2 separate regions of the Homo sapiens genome follow, and region 2 is linked to region 1. Evidence: fine-mapped expression QTL. Tissue or cell type: whole blood. Region 1 holds a variant in brackets; the other region holds the start of a gene. All regions are shown on one strand. Distances are from middle to middle.

Region 1 (2,686 bases):
TATATTTTTTTAAATTTCAAACCAAGGTCACTGTTCTGAAAGGGAATTTCAGAGATAATACATTGTTATTAAGGGATTGTTGCTAATTCCAAAACATATTCACCCTGTTAGACCCTGTGATATTAGCTCATATGTGCTTTTATTTTAATCTGTGATTAATGGGGTGATGAGTAGGGAATTTCAGGGCAACATTTTAAACTAAGTTCTTCTCATCTTTCTGTCAAAATCTTTATTGGGATCATAAATCTCAGCTCTCAGAAGAGGATGTGGGAATTAGATCCTATGACCGTTAAAACACCACATGGAGCTCAGCTGTGTGGACGCAAAGTAACTCTGCGTGGGGCGTGAGGTTGGGTGTGTGTTTGGAACCCTAAGGGTGGCCAGTTGAAGATTTCAGAGCCAAGGGCAGCTGAAGAAGCCAACTCCTGAGTTTTACACTAGCACAGAGGAGGATAGATTTTTATCTTGTGGTGGAAATAATATTTAACCTAGCAATATGTATGTATTTGGATGATGTCATACTTTCTTCTTGAAATATACAAACGCTTTGATGAATTTCTTTCATCTTTAAACTCTTTCATAATGAATCTCTTACATAATAAATCTCTTTAATATATTTTGCAGTCTTTGTATTCACACACAATTGTAAATTCTTAAAAGAAGAGCATATTTATTCTAAGTTCATATATTATTACTATTGAAAACAAAGACACAATAGATAAAGAGTATTGCATGAGCCCTGAATTGAAAACTATGCTTGGAAGACACTAACAGAACTATCAAGTCAGTTGAAGGAAAATATTTGCAGCCAGGCATTTCTTTCCCTGAAATAATATCTATGCCTTTTTAGTAGATGGCCTGAGGTGGCAAGGTAAGAGCTTCAGTTATTGTAAGTGAAAACCTCAGGATATGGCTGGGCATGGTAGCACATGCCTGTACGCTGTACTCAGGATGCTGAGGCAGGAGGATCTCTTGAGGCCAGGAGTTTGAAGCTATAATGCTCTACGATCACTCCTGTGAATAACCATGGCACTCCAGC[C/T]TGGGCAGCATAGTGGAGACTTCCATCTTAAAAAAAAAAAAAGGAAAATGTAAAAAAGTTCCAGATATGCTTAGAAGCAGATTTTTCAAATCCCATGGGGATGGGCTCAAAGAACAATATGATCAATAACCAGCTGACAATGATTAAAGCATCATCTTTGGAAGATGATAAGCTAAAGGTAAAGAATGTAAATCTTATTGCCTAAAACTCTTTGCAGTCAGCCAACTTAATTGAGTGTCTTTGAGAAAATTATTGTCTCATCTATCATATTGGTGCAATGAAAATAATACCTACATTGTACACATGTGGAATTTAAATAAGAAAATATTTTATATATCTACATAGCTCCTGGATATAGTACAAGTTTAAAACATTGTAGTTTATTATCAGGTTCCTGAGAGATGGCACCAATGGCAAAACGGTCACCAAAGCTATACCTTTAGAATTAGAGGATAATCCCAATTTTGTGGACAACATGTGGGTCTAAGCACCGTAGCATCTGTCAGCCTGTCCTGTCTCCTTTTTTAAAGAGCCAAATAGGAATTCTGTTGTGATTGAAGGACTTTCTATCCATCCCTGCAATCCTAGATGCTTTGGGATGCCTGCATAGAAGTTGTGCACTTTTTTCAAACACTGATGGAATAAAACAGTGTAATTACCTCTCTTTTTTTCACACCTAGCATAGAAGACTGATTTCAGGCTTTTTGAGGGGATTGGGTGGTGGTCCTCATCTGAGGATGAGGCTACATAAGTCATGGAAGACCTCGCCAATCCAGGTAGGGTACAACTCTAGGCCCTGTGTGGCTGGTCAAGGAGTCAGTCACTGGCTCATCTCTGGCCTCCCAGGAAGCTGGAGTTGAAAAGGATCTCAGGGTGATCAGATAGAGAACTGCAGAAGGGGAGGGTCAAGCCAGCTTCTTTCAGATTTATTACAGTCCCCTAAAGCATTAATGACCTTTTTGCCTAAAGCTAATACAGGGAAACTTTTAGTTCATTGACCTTCAAATAATTACAGCTGTTTGGAAAGCTTTTGGTCATAGAAACTGGCAGTACTTCCAAACATTTCAAAGATGTCTATCATCTTAATAGCACCTGTCCTTTAACCCTGCACACACACTCCAAAAAGGTTAACTAAAAAATACAACGATTAATTTTATATTCTGATGTTTTCTTATGAGCACAGCTGTGGCCACTTTAGTGTCCAGCAAAGCATTTCTTTGGCGAGTGATTTAGGGAGGGGTGGAAAGTGGAATGGAAAAAATCTCTGGAAAGTCTTTAACACTGGGGCGTATTTTCTCCCTGTTTCACTCCAAGGAATTCCCACTCATGGAATCTGGCCTATCATAAAGAACTTTTTCCTTTTGTACTTGATTCAACTTAGTAAATGATGTCAACCAGCTATGGTGAATGATGAGTGTTCCTCAAACCACAGAACAATAGACTTCATCGTTGAAGCTCTAAAAGAGCAGGAATCTGTCTGTTCCACTTCCCTCCTGCTGGGCACCATCTTCTAGCTCAGCTGGAGCCTCTTGTTCATAATTCCTCCCCTAGAGCAAGTCCTTTTTTGCTGAACTCTAGGACACCCGGCATGCATTCCTCTTCAACTGCCTTTGTTGGCCTGAATGCTGAAACAACATCACTGAACTA
Region 2 (2,686 bases), 65 kb before region 1:
TGGCTTCCTAATCCAAAAGCTCTGCTGGTTTCCAGAAGTATTTATCCAGCTGTCCCTTGGATATTTCCACCTTAATACTCCACAGTCAGCTCAAGATCAACCAATCCTAAAATGAATTGATCATCTCTCCTCACTCAGGACTGGATTCCCAGTGGCCCAAACCAGAAACCTCTCTCTCTGAGTTGAAATGCTTCTCTACAGCTCCCACCTGTCTTCCACCCTTTCCATGACCACTCCCGCTGCCTTAGCTGAGTCAGGATCATCTCTTTCCAGGATGATAACAGTAGCTTCCTCCTCTCCCTGCCTTCCCTCTGGCCCTACCCTTTCTGTTGTCTAAGTGGGCTTTCTAAAGCATATGCCTGATGATGCTCCTCCCTAGCTTTACATTGATTGATAGTTCCCACAGTCCTCAATATCAATGACAAATTCCTTAAAATGAGTGCTATGGCTTCAGAGTACTCCTCTACCTTGTCCTTGAACCCCAGCATTATTCTTTTCTTGTCCTTATGCCCTTCATTCAGGAATGTTATCTCCCACTTTCACCTGGCTCAATCTTAATCATCCTTGAAATGCAGTTCAAATGGAAAGACGCTATACATTTTTTTAGTTCCTTTCTTTTTTCTTGATTTCATACTTTATCACTATATTTTTAGAGACAGGGTCTCGCCATGTCACCCAGGCTGGATGGAGTGCAGTGGCATGATCATAGCTCACTGCAACCTCTAACTCCTGGGCTCAAGCGATCCTCCCACTTCAGCCTCAGGAGTAGCTGGGACTACAGGTGTGTGAGCCTCGCTCATTCCATATTATAGATCCTAACATTACATAACTATAAACCCAATTAACCTTATTCTTGAAGAAGCGAAACCCCCCAGACACCCAAACCACTCGGCTGGTGGTATTGCCAGGCGATGGGAGGAGCAGTCTCACTGCAATGTGACCTTGAGGCTATGTCCATGAGTCCTAGGCCCAATGCAAGGGGCTGTCTACTAGTCTCCTAGACTCTTCACTGGGAATGGGAGCTGAGGAGCGGCCATGATGAATAGCTAGTATCATTTCTTCAGGAAAAGACTCGTCTTTCCACTTTTAATTTGGAGGAAGAAGTTTGCAATTTTGTCGAGGGGCAATGTAGGCGGGGCAAACGTTTGCACAGCAAACGCAGCAGCTCTGCTTTTCCTATCTTGACCTTGAACTTGCCCCTCCCTGTGTGATTACCTGTTGAACACTGAAGTTAGTGGAGAAACACACTTCTCAGCACAGTCTCCCCCCATCCCCCCTCTTAAAACACGATGCCTCCCAGGATGCTAGTGGCACCACTGCCACTGCATTTCCTGTTGGCAGCAGTGAGCAGTGAAAACCGAAGCGGCAGAAGGCAGTGGCAGCAGGCAGTGGCAGCAGGCAGTGGCCCAGGCAGAAATAGCTCCCGCGCGATTCACTGGAGCCTTCCCCGGGCCCTGGTCCCGGCTACCGGGACTCGCGCGTCCGGATCTCAAAAGCGGCAGAGGCCACCGAAGGGACAGGAAGCACTTTGGTCCAGACCACACTCCCGGCACAGTGCGGAAAGAGCCGGCGGGAGCCACTCTGATCCCGGACGCCTCAGCGCCCCCTTGGGCTTGGGCTTGCCCTCGGGCCGGGGAAGGCTGACCGCGATGCCAGGACGCGCTCCCCTCCGCACCGTCCCGGGCGCCCTGGGTGCCTGGCTGCTGGGCGGCCTCTGGGCCTGGACCCTGTGCGGCCTGTGCAGCCTGGGGGCGGTGGGAGCCCCGCGCCCGTGCCAGGCGCCGCAGCAGTGGGAGGGGCGCCAGGTTATGTACCAGCAAAGTAGCGGGCGCAACAGCCGCGCCCTGCTCTCCTACGACGGGCTCAACCAGCGCGTGCGGGTGCTGGACGAGAGGAAGGCGCTGATCCCCTGCAAGAGGTACAGGTCATCGGCCCGCGGGGCGGGAGTAGGGAGCCGCGCGGGCATGGGGAGGGCGAGGTCGCAGAGGCCTGCGCCCTGTAACTCTTTCCGGCCCCTTGCAGCTCCTCCCTTCTCCCAGAGAGATCTTTCGCGAGGAGGGTCTCTTGGGGATAGCATGGTCCGGGACTGGGAGGGGCGCTGCGCCCACCGAGGGCGGCCTGCTGGCGGGGGACTCAGTAACACCCAGCGAGGCGGTGGCAGGTAAAGAAGGGACCCATCCAGGGCGGGATCAAGCTGCAGAGTGCCCCATGCCCAGGTTCGCCCCTGTTCTCACGCTGCTGAGTCAGGCTCTGGGCTCATGGAGCCCCCTGCAGTCTAGGGCGTGTCTTCTGCGCTATCTCATTTCTTTCTAGAGACATCTGCTAGAGAGGCACGCAGAATATGTATTTTCTAAGAAATACTTTTTGTATTTTAAAAGAATATGGCAAGATTACAAACGGTATGGGAAAGTGATAAAAAGAAAATTTCACCCACAAACTTAGCAAATTGTTACAGCATTAAAATTTTGGTCTACTCCTTTTAAGTTTTTTGTTTATTTTAAAGCAAATTTTACATACTATGATCAAAAGCCATACGTTATCTGAATCTTTTTTTAACTTAACATTGTCCCTTATATGTTCTTATTTGCCATTTTATTAGCTTGCCTCCTATTTTTAATGGCTGCACAGTATCGCTTACAGGGGCAAAGCTGTAAGTTTCTTTTAAGTATTGGTCTGACCATTCACC

What was found. PIP is the estimated chance that this variant, and not a neighbour inherited with it, causes the effect.
Region 2: it holds the start of EPDR1, and the variant in region 1 is fine-mapped to the expression of EPDR1 in whole blood (INTERVAL, PIP above 0.99).

What each region holds. Positions count from the first base shown.
Region 1 is chr7:37,984,684-37,987,369 of GRCh38, forward strand. No RefSeq gene overlaps it. Among named protein-coding and RNA genes, the nearest start is that of EPDR1, 65 kb to the left of the region's middle. RefSeq lists an enhancer at 2,203-2,686. The variant C/T (reference allele first, on the strand shown) is at 1,040.
Region 2 is chr7:37,919,291-37,921,976 of GRCh38, forward strand. It overlaps EPDR1 (ependymin related 1), which reads left to right and starts at 1,350. Exons shown (of 3, transcript NM_017549.5): 1 at 1,350-1,918. The coding sequence starts at 1,650. RefSeq lists a silencer at 1,595-2,044.